2 separate regions of the Homo sapiens genome follow, and region 1 is linked to region 2. The links come from fine-mapping of genetic effects on gene expression. Tissue or cell type: skeletal muscle. Region 2 holds a variant in brackets; the other region holds the start of a gene. All regions are shown on one strand. Distances are between the middles of the regions.

The links. PIP is the estimated chance that this variant, and not a neighbour inherited with it, causes the effect.
Region 1: it holds the start of MAP7D3, and the variant in region 2 is fine-mapped to the expression of MAP7D3 in skeletal muscle (GTEx, PIP 0.92).

Annotation. Positions count from the first base shown.
Region 1 is chrX:136,248,056-136,256,172 of GRCh38, forward strand. MAP7D3 (MAP7 domain containing 3) reads right to left here and starts at 3,345. Exons shown (of 19, transcript NM_024597.4): 1 at 3,234-3,345. The coding sequence starts at 3,303. RefSeq lists a silencer at 3,062-3,451.
Region 2 is chrX:136,200,240-136,208,270 of GRCh38, forward strand. It overlaps FHL1 (four and a half LIM domains 1), which reads left to right. Exons shown (of 6, transcript NM_001159699.2): 2 at 6,168-6,349; 3 at 6,777-6,951; 4 at 7,553-7,722. Among named protein-coding and RNA genes, the nearest start is that of FHL1, 7.2 kb to the left of the region's middle. The variant C/T (reference allele first, on the strand shown) is at 5,916.

The DNA.
Region 1 (8,117 bases), 48 kb after region 2:
ATACAAAAATTAGCTGGGTGTGGTGGTGCATGCCTGTAGTCTCAGCTACTCAGGAGGCTGAGCCCAAGAGTTTGAGGCTGCAGTGAGCCTTTAGCATCCCACTGCACTCCAGCCTGGGCAACCCTGTCTCAAAAAAAGTATACTTTTACCAGGCTAATTAAAAATCTTATTAAACAGAAATAACCTTAGAAGTAGCTGTGGTGAGAATAATGAACCGAATCATATAAAGGTTAATGTGGTAGTAGTATCAAATCTGATTTTTAGACCTTTGTATCCAAATTCCTACTGGTAAGAAATACATTAACAGAAAGGACAGGGTTTAAAAATTATTTAAAATGTCCAGAAAATGGGATAACACCTTTATGTCTGGATATAATAAAGTCAACATTTTATTCAACTTCATTGAATGAAAGAATTTACTTAACATGCATTTAAATGAATGAGGGAATTTACTTAATATTCAGTTAAAAGTAACAGCAAGGTATTTCTGTAGTCCTTATACTAATTCTAAATCCAAAATTAAAGTAAAAGTTATATTTTGCCCAGAGATTAAATAAGAAAATGTGTAGTGTATTACTAAAACTGAATTATGAATCTTAATCTGTATTTATAGAACTTTTCTAAAAACTTCCATAACACATATTATATACCATTTCACCATTTACAAAGTTCATTTGTATTACTTCATGTAATTCTTACAACAATCCTATAAAGTGGACGTAATTATTTTCCCCAATTTTTTTTATAGTTGAAAAAACTGAAGCTAAACATAACTTTCCCAGTTCACACAGGTAGTAAGTGGTGAAGCCAGAACTTGATTTAACTGTAAATTTCAAAGCAACTTTATTTTGAAATATTAAGAAAAAATAACAGGAAAAGAAATCTGCCATCAGAGAACCATAAAAATCAGGCAGATTCACAGAATTTTGCCTCAAATAGCAAAAGCCAAAGTCATAGGGCTGAGACTTTCAGAAGACCTCCAAGTTCAAACCAAAGATAGCATGTCTTGAAGACAAAACTGGAGACAATTTTCTACCATTTAGAGCTGTCTACAATGGAATGGCTACTTGGAAAAATATTAAGCTCCTCATGAGAGTGCCCATTCAAGTGGCAGAAGTGCCCCAGGATTTTACAGCTGGGACTCTGGATGCCTGACAAGATCATCTTAAGGTTTCTCCAACTCTAAAATTCTATGATAATCTAGCTGTCAATCTCCGTAGCTTTTTCTGCATTGGTAGAAATTATTCTTTGAAAAAGTTATTCTAAACTGAGAAACACTGGTGAATTTAGAAAAACAAGAAGGGAAAGGTGATACGTCAGTGGCAAGTTTCTTATGCTCATCTGGTTGAAATATTCAAATAAATTTTTATTTTAAAACAATTCTGCATAAAAATATAAACACGTGTTTTGTTAAATATTTGGTATGCTACAACCTCAGCACAGTGCTATGCACAGAAAACATCACTCAACAAATATATATTTACACTTTATATGTAACACATATATATATACATGTATCTATTGCATGCATACATAAATGTATAAAATAAATGTATTTTGACTGTGCTATGCATTTATATGTTATGTATTCAAGACAGTTTTAACTCTTGCTGCCAGACTGCCAGCAGAAGATGAAAACAACATTTTAGCAAAAACATCTGTCTCCTTGACCCCTTCAGGAAAACGCTGAGATCTAAAGGGCAGTTCTGGTCAAGTTGGTGCTCTGTGAAAAAAGTCTAACATGCGATATTTACAATTCCTAACATGAAGTGGGCAGCAAGGTTTTAAACCAGGGTCCTAGGTTAAGACTTTTACATGGCTCTTAAGTTTTTGGTTTGAAATGCTGTGAATTCCAGTATCTGTCCCATATATAATTTTAAAACACTTTCCAACATCTGATATACAAATGCTTTTAGGGGTTTATCCGGTTCACAGCTTCTTCACCATATTGGAGTAATGCTGGTTAATCTAAATCACTGAAATAAACCAGTGCCTGAGAGCCACAGGTACCAATAAGCAACACAATTTATTGGAGACTGTCTTTCTAGGTGAACCATAAGTATAGACACGGAAGGAAGATTCTTTTCTCCCTAATGAATGGTGAAAGTGTATGTAGTATATGCTTCTGACACAGTCTTTGGAGAGCTGATTCAAAGTCTTCTCAAGTAACATATAGCTTCCCAATCGTAAACAATCTAACTTTTTAATTGCAAATGCAAAAAAACCCCTAAGAAATTCAATTAAAATTAATAAAATCGTTTTATTCGCGCTCATAGCAGAGGGAACTAGTCTAACAGGCTAAAAGCAACCTCCTGAAAGGAAGAAATCCTATCTCAGGTAGTGGAGCAGTCTCCTGGACCAAGCAATGTGCTGTCAAATTGTATAAGATTAACGGTTTTCGAGGAGGGAAAAACGTTTTGGCGATGGGACTAGTTGAGGAAAAAGCACTCTGAAGTGCTGATTCCCGTTCAGTTCAGCCTAGAGACTGCAAGATGTCCCACAGAAGATGACATCTTGTTGAAGTCATGTGCTACAGCAGGCAAATCAGGAGATGCAAAGAGCCAAGTTTCATCCCAACTTTTAAAGCAACTTTTAAGCATCCCCACCCTCACCCAGCTTCCTCCCTGGACCTTGACCGGGAGGGTGCAGGAGGTAAGCCTTTGGGAGAGGCAAGGACTGCGACAGTAAAAGCGCCTAAACTCGCCCACGACCCGGGCTGGGGGATAACTCAAACTTTCCGTGCCTGGAAAGGCTGCCTGGCGGCGGAGGCGGCGCCGGCGCGCGGAGTCCCTGCGGGCGCCCGCACATCCCAGGCAGCTGTGCGTTCGTTGGGGCGGTTGCGCGGGCGGCCACCGCCCCCCAAGGGCAGATGGGGCACGGGGCGGTCCGCGGGGTCCGGCTTCCAGCCGCCCCCGCCCCGCCCGTCGAAGCAGAGCCCGTGAGTTGCCTCGCGCCGCGTCCGCGGGGCTCAGACCGTTGGCAGCGGCAGTTCGACCGTTGGCGGCGGGACTCAGGCGGCTCGCGGCGTCGGCTGACAATTTCAACCCCCCGCCCCCGCCCCTGTCCCATCCCAGGGCACTCCGGCGGGGGTGAGGGGAGGACCAGATAGCACGAGGCGACTCCAGGGAAAAGTTTTGTGGCGCCCGCTGCGCCGCTCCGACGGCCCGGGGACTGCGGGAACCCTGCCTCCCACGCGGGCCCGAACCACCCCCGGGAGCCACCCGCCCGCTCACCCATCCGTGCCCGCAGCTCTCTCAAGGATGGGCTGCCGCCAGCGCCAGCTGCGGCGCCGTCCGCCATCATCGGAGTCGGGACCGGAGGCGGTGGTGGCTCTCCGCATACATTGCGCAGGCGTCGGCGCGGCCTCCGCTTGGGTCGTGGCCGGGCTGCCGGTGGGCGGGGCGGGGCGGGGCGGGGCGGGGCGGGGCCCGAAGGGCCACCGCGCCCGCCTCGGACCTGCGAACCGGGCAGGATTGCCCCTTGCGTCCCACGTCCTGACCGGCTGGGCAGCGACTACCTGGTCTAAAGAAACCCTCTCCTATGTTCCGTGCTCTGCCCCTACTGCATTGTGAGGACTAGCCAATCAGCACCCAGCTTGGCCCCCCCAACATTCCTTTCTTCACCTTTACCTAGCAACACAGTAACATTCCTTCCTCATTCATTCATTCATTTAAAGAACATTTACGGCGTGCCTCCTGGGTGCGCTTGTATCATGAGTTTACTAGTCCTTGAAACATTACACAAAGAAAGACCCAAGTTGGGGGAAGAAGCCTAGGGAGAGGTTGGGAGTCGCAGGCTTGCTTTGAGGTGCTAGGGGCCCCATCATGAGTAGGCTTCCCTAAACTGTTGCACAATAAATCATGACACATAGGTCTCAAAGTTGGGTGAAATATCTTTAAGATGTTTGTGAGTCTTCAAAGAGAGGCAGAGGACTTATTGGCATCAATCTCTCCGGATTTTGGGAGAGACTCTACCAGGTTGCAGAATGTTTTTCCCATTCACAAGGAAAACCGTCATTGGCCTGAGGCTCCTTTAAGGGGCAGACCTCACTTCATGGGGGCTTGCCCTTATGAGGTGGAGTCACCACTGTTGTGAGTGTGTGTGTAGTGACATAGTTGTAGGCACGCAGTTTATGGTTGGGGCCATTAAGTGTGGTGCAGGAGATCCCAAAATGGGGCTGGACCACTTGTGAGATGGGCACTTTGGCGAGACCACTGAGTCTCCAAATGACATGGGAGCTGTAAAATGGAAGAAGCTAATAATAGCATATATTACATATGTTAGCAATGATAGCATAAGTTACATATATTAATATATAATATATATAATATGTAATATGGGGCAGGCACGGTGGCTCATGCCTGTAATCCTAGCATTTTGGGAGGCTGAGGTGGGTGGATCATTTGAGGTCAGGAGTTCGAGACTAGCCTGGCCAACATGGTGAAACTCCGACTCTACTAAAAATACAAAAATTAGCCGGGCATGGTGGTGGGTGCCTGTAATCCCAGCTACTTGGGAGGCTGAGGCAGGAGAATCGCTTGAACCCGGGAGGTGGAGTTTGCAGTGAGCCATGATAGCACCACTGCACTCCAGCCTGGGTGACAGAGCGAGACTCTGTCTCAAAAAAAAAAAAAAAAAAAAAAAGAAAAGAAAAGAAAAAGAAAAAAAAGACATTACGTTGCACCTACAATTTTAACAAAAATTAAAACGTGGTCAATAAGTGTTTGCGATGATGTAGATTAATACAAGTGGGGGGCCAGGCACGGTGGTTCACACCTGTAATCCCAGCCCCAGCACTTTGGGAGGCCCAGGCAGGTGGATAACCTGAAGTCAGGAGTTCAAGATCAGCCTGGCCAGCATGGGGAAACCCCGTCTCTAGTAAAAATACAAAAATTAGCTGGGCGTCGTGGCGGGCCCCTGTAATCCCAGCTGCTCGGGAGGCTGAGGCAGGAGAATCGCTTGAACCCGGGAGGTGGAGGTTGCAGTGAGCCGAGAGCTGCCACTGCACTCCAGCCTGGGCAACAGAGCGAGACTCTGTCTCGAAGAAAAAAAAAACTAGTGGCAAAAATAAACAGTTTGGCATTATAACTCCCGAAGCTCTGCTTCTAAGTAAATACAGAGACCAATGCTTTGCATGATATCCAGGATGGTAGCCATTCATGATTATTAATACGACACACATATGATTAGGGTGCCCACAAAACACACACACATACACAAACACAAGTTCAGCTTTCATGACCTTATCTGGAACTCCGCAAACAGAAAATTTAGCAAAACACATCAGCTTTGTAGTTTCTTGCAAAAATGTTGAACCCAAATCTAATAATGAAGAAACATTCAGACAGAGATAGAGACTGTGATATAGTCCACAAAATAACTGGCCCCAATGCTTCAAAATATTAGTGTCATGAAAGACTAACAACAAAAATCAGAGAAGTGTTCCAGATCACAGGAGGCTAAAGAGACCACATGCAATGTATGATCCTTGATTACAACCCTAATTTTTAAAAGAAGCTTGAAAGGGCATACGTTACTGGCATAATTAGAAAATTTGAATATGAACTGTATGGTACATGATATTGTATCAAGGTCAAATTTCTTGGGTGTGGGAATGATGTTGTAGTCACCTAGGAAAATGCACTTCTTCTTAAGAAATAAATAGTCACGCCTGTAATCCCAGCACTTTGGGAGGCTGAGGCCGGCACATTGCTTGAGCTCAGGAGTTCCAGACCAGCCTGGCCCAACATGGCGAAACACCATCTCTAGAAAAAAATAAAAACACAAGACAAAAACCCAAAAATTACCTGGGTGTAGTGGCACATGCCTGTAATTCCAGCTACTCGGGAGGCTAAGGCAAGAGAATCGCTTGAACCCAGGAGGCGGAGGTTGCAGTGAGCTGAGATTGCCTGCTGCACTCCAGCCTGGGAGACAGAATGAGACTTTGTCTCACGAACACAAAAAAAGACATAAATATTGAAGAATGTAGGGGTAAAGATTTGAGGTTTTTCCAAATAAGAAGTTAGATAATTTTTTCTTTATTTTTTGAGATGGAGTCTCACTCTATCACCCAGGCTGGAGTGCAGTGGTACAGTCCTGGCTCACTGCAACCTCCGCCTCCTGGGTTCAAGCGATTCTCCTGCCTCAGCCTCCCAAGTAGCAGGAATTACAGACCTGCACCCCCACGCCCGGCTAATTTTTGTATTTTTAGTAGAGACGGGGTTTTGCCATGTTGACCAGTCTAGTCTCCAACTCCTGAGGTCAAGTGATTCACCCTCCTTGGCATCCCAGAGTGCTGGGATTACAGATGTGAACCACTGCGCCCAGCCGAGTTTTTTTCAATCTAGAAGTTTGTCTTCAACTTATTTGTAAACACTGTCACTTTGAAAAATAAAATTTGATTGGGAATTACACATGGGGAGGCACCCTACTAGTCTTTTCAGTGTTTAGAGCCTCTAAAGGCCTCAGTCCAGCCAGGGTGTAGGAGGAAGAGGGGAGATAAGACATCCAGGAATAACCACATACAGGTGGCATGAGTAGGATTTAGGCGAGTAACTGAAACGGCTTCCAAGGGCTAAGGGATGAGAAATCAGTCCTGTTTGGAGTGATCAGAGAAGTCTTTGTGGAAGAATTAGCACTTATTCTGGGCCTGAGATGGGGACTGTGGGAACCACCTCCAAAAGCGAGTAACCACGTCTTAATTCCAGCCCATGGTCGCTGAGTGGGCAGATGGGCCCATCTGTGGCCAGATATTCCCACTTTTCAAAATAAACTCGAAATCTGGATCTTAATGTAAAATCTATTTTTAAATGATGACATTAAAAGTAAAAACAAAAACAAAAACAAACAAACAACAAAAACAAACAAACAAAAAAAACGGCTGGGTGCGGTGGCTCACACCTGTAATCCCAGCACTTTGGAAGGCCAATGCGAGCAGATCACCTGAGGTCAGGATTCCCAGACCAGCCTGGCCAACATGGTGAAGCTCCATCTCTACTAAAAAATACAAAAATTAGCTGGGCGTGGTGGCACGCGCCTGTAATCCTAGGTACTAGGAGGCGGAGGCAGGAGGATCACTTGAACCTGGGAGGCCGAGGTTGTGGTGAGCTGAGATCGTGCTATTGCACTCCAGCCTGGGCAACAAGAGCAAAACTCTGTCTCAAAAACAAACAAACAAAAAAAAGCAAATAAAAAAAGAAAAAACATGGTGCAGGGCAGTGTTCAAATTTCCAAATTGCCTCATTTAAAAAATCTTTGAATAAAAATTCAAACAAGGTCCATACATTGCATTATTTGATATGCCTTTTAATCTGTAGATATAACTTCTTTCTCTCTAACATCATTGGTAGATTACTGTGAGATTTAGTATTCATTTAGTAGGTAAATTATTCAATTAATCTTTTATTAACCACCTACTCTGTGACTAGCAGTGTGGGGACAAATACATATGGAAGGAAGCCCTGCCCTCTAGGGTCCCCAATCTCATTGACTCTAAACTAATGACTTACATCAGGGTCCCTTTAGATGTTTCCTTGGGGCTACAGAAGCTCACCAAGGAGCTCCCACGAGACTGTACATTTCTGAGAAAAAAATATTGGAACTGAAAGCTATCAGCTTGGGGACAGTGGAGTTTATTCTGGAGCCAAAACAGACTCAGAGCTGGGAAAGAACCCAGGCGGCTCCTCTCCTCTCCTCTCCTCCCCGTATTTGGAAAGCATGTGTTCCCCAGCGAGCAGAGAAGAACTGGAATCCTGCTCGCTTTTTCTTCCTTCTAGGCTATTTTTTCCCCTTAAACCTTACACCCTTGGGAAAAACATTCAGAAACCACAGTCATAACAGGTCTAGAAATTGCCACATTTGTTTCTATTAAAAGATGAAGTTTTTTAAAAAATTGAACTTACATATAATAAACATTTAGTGAGCTTACCAATCTAGCGAATTTGCATGCAAACTGCCACCACCACAGTCCTGTACTATGAGTTTTAAGCTTACCAGCCATGCGATGGCTTTTTCTCTCCATTCTTAACGACCTGTTAGATTCCTTGTCATATACACAGTTGAGACAAGGCTCTGGTTTTGTGTTCTTTCTCCTCTCGTCGCTCACTCTTGTCCTGCAT
Region 2 (8,031 bases):
TAATTTAGTTAATTTTTAATTAAATTATTTAATAATGATGCTTTCTGTCTTAGAAAATCAGGGGACATTTATGTGGACCTAAGGTGTAGGTTAGACTTCAGCACCTTACACGTCATATAAGATGATTTTTAAAATCAGGAAATAGTATGTCATATTGCATTAGGTTCATAAGTCCATGAAAGCAGAGGAGAATAGGCCCAAGAAAGAAGTCCTTACAGAAAGGAAATCAGTGTGGTCCTGAAATAGGGTTGGTATGGACAAAATAGAGGCTCAGATAATTGGATCAGAAGCCACTTTCAGTGACTATCCACATACCAAAGTTTTAGAAACTTAGTTGTGGTAACATATCTCCATCTGTCAATCAACAGGCATATACTGAGTGATTCCTGTATACAAAGCCCTGGATTAGGTACTGGGGCCCCCTAGTGTATGAGCAGAACTTTCTGTCATAGAGAAACCCCACTTGTTAGCACTAGGGAATGTATCCAAGTCACTCGGCACCAAAGTATGTTAGCAGCGGGGAATCTGTGGGTCTGTAGCAACCTCATTTCTTGCCTCCTCAAGGAAGAACAAGGCAGAGGGAGAAGCCAAGGCAACTTTTAGAGCAGGAGTGAAAGTTTATTAAAAACTTTTAGAGCAGGAGGCCGGGCACGGTGGCTCATGCCTGTAATGCCAGCACTTTGGGAGGCTGAGGCGGGTGGATTACTTGAGGTCAGGAGTTGGAGACCAGCCTGGTCAACATGCTGAAACTCTGTCTCTACTAAAAATACAAAAATTAGCCAGGCTTGGTGGTGCACGCATGTAATCCCAGCTACTTGGGAGGCTGAGGCAGGAGAATTGCTTGAACCTGGGAGGCGGAAGTTACAGTGAACAGAGATTGCACCATTGCACTGCAGCCTGGGTGACAAAGTGAGACTCCGTCTCAAAAAATAAAATAAAGTTTCAGAGCAGGAATGAAAGTAAAGTACATTTAGAAGATGACCAAGCAGGCTACTTGAGAGATTCAAAAAGTGCATGGTTTGACCTTTGACCTGGGCTTTTATATGTTGGCATGATTCGGGTGTTATATTACTTCTCTCCTGATTCTTCCCTTGGGGTGGGCTGTCCGCATGCCCAGTGGCCTGCCAGCACTTGGGAAGTGCCGCATGCGTGGTGTTTACTGAAGTTGTGTGCATGCTTACTTTAAGCGATTTTTCCCTTAGCAGTAGAGCATTCCCAGAGGTAGGTCTTATACCAGTTAAACACCGCAATTTTGCCTCTTAGTGCACATGCTTGAGCCCAATTACCCACCTCCTGAGATCTCATGGGGACGTGGCTGAGCATCAGTTTCAGGTGTTTCTGTCTATTAGGGACCGTGTTTCCTTGGTGCCAGCTGCAACCAATTATTATTTTAGCGAGAGATAGTTTAACAACCATCTGACCTTCACCTGATGGCCGCCTGACATTCCTGGTTGGGTGGGGGGCCCTCTCTTGCCCTGCTCATGTCTAATACCTACTCTGGCATCCCTACTATGTACAGATGAGGGCTACACCGAGACATTAAAATTAGTCAAAGAGCTGCCCGAGGGCAAACATGCCCTCCACAAAGACAAGTGGTAAGGGAAGAAGCATGGTGATGATGTGTAGCAATTGTTTCCTTCAATGATGGCTGACACTCCCATTCCCGGATAACAGCAATAGGTCAAGGCAGACATATCTAGAAGTTCTGGAAGATTAAAGGCCTTCACATTTCATGTACTTAGAAATAGCTAAGGGGATAAAAAATTATTCCCTAAGAAATAAATGCCTAAGTACATGTAATTCTGTAAGGTTGAAGAGAGCCCAAAAGAAGAGGTAAAATGCTGGCTGGGCATGGTGGCTCATGCCTGCAATCCCATCAAGTTGGGAGGCCGAGGTGGGCAGATCACTTGAGGTCAGGAGTTCAAGACCAGCCTGCCCGACATGGCGAAACCCCGTCTCTACTAAAAATACAAAAATTAGCCAGGCGTGGTGGCATTCACCTATAGTCCTAGCTACTCAGGAGGCTAAGGTAGGAGAATTGCTTGAACCCAGGAGGTGGAGGTTGCAGTGAGCCAGGATAGCACCACTGCACTTCAGCCTGGGTGACAGAGCGAGACCCTGTCTCAACAACAACAAAGAGGTAAAATGCTATCTTCATTTTTCCCTATTCTCTCATTTCAAACAAAAGAAAGTGCAAGCTGGGATGGACGCGGTGGCTCATGCCTGTAACCCCTGTAATCTCAGGTGCGGTGGCTCACGCCTGTAAAATGCACTTTGGGAGGCCAAGGCAGGTGGATCATGAGGTCAGGAGATCGAGACCATCCTGGCCAACATGGTGAAACCCTGTCTCTACTAAAAATACAAAAATTAGCTGGGTGTGGTGTCACATGCCTGTAGTTCCAGCTACTCGGGAGGCTGAGGCAGGAGAATCACTTGAACCCAGGAGGCAGAGGTTACAGTGATCCAAGATTGCGCCACTGCACTCCAGCCTGGTGACAGAGCGAGACTCCGTCTAAAATAAAAAAGAAAGAAAGAAAGAGCAAGCTTTTCTCTCCTCATGAAGTCAAAGCTTGATAGTAGCTCAGACTCAGGGAGCCCACACTCAGGATCTTTGCATGTGTGTCTCAGCATTGTCATTTATAAGCTGGCTTTTTAGAGTTGTTTTGGTCTTGTGCACATCAGCACATCATTCATATTTTATACAAAATTGTGACGTGATCAGTATCTCCTCCAACTTCATCCTGAGCACACTGCGTGCATGAGGGTTTGAAATTGTTTTGTAACAAATAATCATAAATTTAGAAGTACGTGACGTAAGCTAATTCAGGTTGCCCAGAGTTCCACTTAATTTGATTTATTGCAAAACAAATACGAAAGTTCATGAATTTGACATAGACATTGTTAACATACTTTAAGTATTTCTAGCCTGTTTACTTATTATGCAACAAATCCAACATTCCTAGAAGTGCCTATTTTATCTAGACTAATTGTTTCCACACACATTAAAAGGACTCAAGTGAATTGTAGAAATGTATTCTAAAAGAATATGCCCTTTGAAATGATTCTCCATCTGGATACAGACTGCAGGTTTAAGTATAGAGTGGTGGGGAATCTAAGGTGTAAGGTGACCCTAGAGTTTTCAAACTCAGAGTGAAAAAATCTTGCCTAAAGCTAGGATTCAAAAATACCAAGAGATGAAACTCTTCTTATGGGTACTATTAACTTGGGGTTGATTCATTTAATTTTCCTTTTGCTTGGTTTAAGACCATGTACTATAGGAATGATACAGTGGCCAGTGACTTCATTGTCTGACATTTTCAACACCCTTTGTTACTTCTATCTTCACTGGTGAGCTGTGGATTATTTTATCATCTGGATGCTTAGAACTCTGAGCAAGTCATGTTCTAGAACTATGAGACTAAACAATGAAGAACTTTGCACTGGTAATATCAAAGTACTGAAAGTGTGTGGTTTTAAAGTGTGAAAAACATGGCAGTTAAGATCTCTCAGGTACTTTGAACCATAATGCAGTTTTCCTTCTCTTCAAAACCTCTACTTCTAAATGGCATTCATTGTGTTTTCTAGTGTTTTTTCTTTGGTATGACACTAGTTAACCTGTATTTCTTACCATAAAGCTAGGACTCAAATACTAAGAGGTTTGACTCACCTTAGGTGGAACTTTATATAGTACTTTAACTTAGAAATATTTGGAATCAATTTCTGCTTATAAAGGTATCAAAAGCAAGTGATACTAAAACGAGTAGGTTCAAAGTTGTATACTAAATAGAGACCTTGGTAAGAGAGAATGAGGGATTTTCAAATATGGTCCAGAAGATAGTCTCTGAAAGGCTAAACCAGCAATGGTTACTAGCCATGCAGGAAGCCAGTGCTGTCTAATCTTACAAATTCTGTTTTCCTGCCAAATGGCATTTAGGAGCAACTGATAATTTATTTCTTGCCACTTGCCGTTACTGGAGATTTATTTGGTTTCTCAACTCAGCCCTTAACAAGAAAGCAAGTCTTTGTTGAGGGCACAATATTATCAGTATGGCAAAGCTAAGACGAGGCTTCTGTGTGACACTGGAAAGACCAACAAGAATGGATTAAAGAGAGTGATTTTCCATATGCTGTCACTGGGACAGGTACTTTTCTCTGTAGACACACAGGCTAAAAGCAGTTTAAAAGCTTCCTTACCTAAACAGTACATAGTTCAAGGAGATAGGCCCTGTGTCCATTGCGTCTCTAGTTTTTGTTTCTAACCCATTATATAAAGAAACATCCCAGTTTGCTTTTTAGAGAAAAGTTCAAGTTAGAACCATTCTCTGGTCTTGCTAAGTCTCTTAATTGTGACACAACTGTCCTAAGCAACTGTCCTTGCACAAGAATGTCACTCATCTGCTTCATCTGCCAGCTCCTTAGAGATGAGGGGGGTCTGTGTGTCAGCAGGAGGCAGAAGGCCCTGTGGCTCATCCAGTGGCCTGATTTCCTTTGTTTGGAGGCTTGGTTCTGAGTGAGAGTTCAACAGCCTTTGCCCAGGCGGCTTCTCAAACACAGGGTGTGGTTTCCTTAGCTCACTCTCTGCTGTTTGGTTGCTCATGGCAACAAGATCCAAATAACTTGGACATGTGTTTGTATAAAAAAAACCTGGGAATGGAACCCAAAGTGAGACTTTGGGGCTTTCAGTTAGTGGAAGAGCTGCGGTGAGTACCAGGCAACTGCTCATTTATTTTCTCTCATTCTTTCTCTCTAAATTACGCTGGAAGTTTGCTAGCACAATAACCATGTTTGTGGATAGTTTTAGAAAGTAGTCTCAATTCTTGTATTTCCTGCACAAATGAAATAATTGCTATCTATTTACCCGTGCAAATTTCTTTTTCGGGGGAGAGGAACAAATTAGCATATGTTTAAAGAAGTTGAAAGCTAATAGAAACTCATATTTGGTACCTTTTGGGTGGCAGGATTCTATAGGAAATGCCTTGGCAAAGGGAGCTGCAGAGTGCCTTAGTAATGCTTGGGATTGCAGGCGTGTTGTCTAGGGCCACAGCCGGGGAGGGGACCAGGGAGGGAAGAGGGGTTGTTCATACGGAGGGAGTGGAAGGGATTCTTGGAATAATTTTTTCCAGACTCTATTTTAAGATTATAATTTTTAAGACAGCAAATATCCCAAATGGTAATACTGGTTACACTTCTATGAGCATATTGATTCTCACTTGCTTGACTCAAGGGAGGGTTTGATTTTGGTCACAAAGCCACCCGTGACTATGACAGATAATTCAAGGTTGCCAAACTTGCCTGTGCCAATTGACAAAGCCATTTATATAAGTCCTCTCTTGCTATATTGCTCTGGCCTCAAAAGGCAGTAAACTCTCTTGGACAAAACTCTTTAGGATCTATTCAGGGATTTAACACTTTTCTGCTAAATTGCAAGTAAATTTAAACATTTTAAACAAATTAACAAGGATTGCTTAGGTACCTGGTGTGGTACAGAATGAGCTGTCAGTTTCTATTCTGATGAATAGAATTTTATAGATAGGAGGAACGGGAGGCCTCCAGAGGATACTACCCTCCCTAAAAAGAGACGGAGGAAGAGCTGAAAGCGGGCAGAGAGGCTTCTTGATGACAACGTGGTGGGCTTAGAGAAGCTGCTGCCTGCAGGCGGGGCCCCTGCTTTCCTGCACCCCTTTGAGCCTCTGCCCCACACTCTTCCTTTGTATAAAACAACTGCTTCTTGCCTGCCTGCCCCATCACACCCCTCCACTCCATCGGGTCACTGCTCAATGGCACAATAGCACTGCTCAGCCATACCTCCCAGCATCCTGTCCCCTATCTGGTGACTTGGCCAACACAGGCTCTGATCCACTTGCCCCGCTCCGCATCTTTTGTGAATCAGCACAGTTGATATATCTGAGCAGGGG[C/T]TTCTACCATCTCCCCAGGGAATCACTAGCCATCGGCCATCTGGCCCCGCGGGGTGCTTTTGTTCCTGGAATCATAGTGAAGTATCTGTTGTCTTGGTGCCTGGTAGTCAGCTCGGCTGAAGGGGAAGCTGGGTCTTGGTCCTCAGACCCCATGGACTCCAAGGCAGCATTGTGCAGGTGCCTCTGGGAGCCACTGCTCAGGGTGCTGGGGCATTTCCTGTGGTCATTTGTCCTGTCTGCTTGCCCCCGCAGGTCCCTCCAGCTACAAGGTGGGCACCATGGCGGAGAAGTTTGACTGCCACTACTGCAGGGATCCCTTGCAGGGGAAGAAGTATGTGCAAAAGGATGGCCACCACTGCTGCCTGAAATGCTTTGACAAGTTCTGTGCCAACACCTGTGTGGAATGCCGCAAGCCCATCGGTGCGGACTCCAAGGTAACGGGCATCCCCATGTGCCAATGGGAAGGGCTGGGTTTTGGAGTGTCCTTTGCCCACAACCATGGCAGCAGCAGCTGGCTGTTAGGATTTCCCAGCATCACTGCAGCCACCTTGAGGCCTCAAGGAAGCCTCCTCCACTCCCCAGGCCACAGTGGCCCGAGCTGTTTAATGTGGGGCTTGACTGGATGGGCGCCAGCGCCCTTGCCAGCTCTTTTGATTGCATTCTAAATATTTCAAGAATTGTGAGATTTTTATCCTCACCTCAGCGTCCCTCCTATAAGAATAGTCACTGTGGGGCAGTCCCAGGTGTAAGGGACTGTGTCATCTCAGTGGTCAGTCCCAGGGAAATCAGCCTTATGGGAGGGCTCCTGCCACCACCCCCAGCACCCCTCATGGTGGCCCACCCTGTCTGCTTGGTTTCCAGGAGGTGCACTATAAGAACCGCTTCTGGCATGACACCTGCTTCCGCTGTGCCAAGTGCCTTCACCCCTTGGCCAATGAGACCTTTGTGGCCAAGGACAACAAGATCCTGTGCAACAAGTGCACCACTCGGGAGGACTCCCCCAAGTGCAAGGGGTGCTTCAAGGCCATTGTGGCAGGTACTGCCTCCTTCCCACCCCGGGTTCCCAGGGAGGAGGCCCTGAGGGCAGACGTGATGTGGGCTTGCTTATCATGGTGGGGCTAACGTTGCTCTGAGCTGCTTTGAGATCTTAGCATATATATGTACACATATACATACACGTATATATGCGTACACATATATGCTCGCACACACGCACACACTCGGAGACTAAAGAACACTGGCGAGAACAGCCTGTGGCAACAGAATGAAGTGAACAGTATGTAGCGCTTTCTCATTTGGGCGTAGTAAGTGATGAAAGCATGCTTCTTCCTCAGGGTGTCATTCTGGGCCAGGCAGTCCCTGATTTAATGTCTAAGTGCACGCAGGGTATAGAGGTGGGGGAGTGGGGGATTCAGGCACTGGATCCTAAAATAATAATGCTGGGGTCCCCACCCATGACAGAAATCCTGGGTTGGCACAAGCACAAGTAGAACACAGGTAGGTTAGTTGGAGGTGTGAGGCCAGTAACTGCAGGGCCTGCATCCCCTCACCTCTGGAGGGCCTGGGGAGGGGAGCTGAGTGGATGCAGCCCCCTGCAGAGCCTGTCAGTGGGGCTATCCAATTGCTTCCCTCTGCAGGAGATCAAAACGTGGAGTACAAGGGGACCGTCTGGCACAAAGACTGCTTCACCTGTAGTAACTGCAAGCAAGTCATCGGGACTGGAAGCTTCTTCCCTAAAGGGGAGGACTTCTACTGCGTGACTTGCCATGAGACCAAGTTTGCCAAGCATTGCGTGAAGTGCAACAAGGTATGCTTTCAAGGGAGTTCTGCATTGACCGTTGTTTCTAGAAGTGTTTGACAGTTTGCAGAGCACTTCCACACACACTATCCCATTCCATCCTCACGACAGCCCTGTGACGTAGGAATTATTATTCCCGTTTTACAGATGAGGAGATCGTGGATTAGGAAGCAGTGCCACAGCCAAGTCAGGCTGTCAGTACGCATCCTCAGCCTGGTGGTGCGGGTGGCCCGTATGGCATGCTGAGCTGGGCAGCCCTGGCTCTAGAAGCCTGCCTCCACCACTTAGGGGCTGTGTAACCTCACATAGGGGCTCACC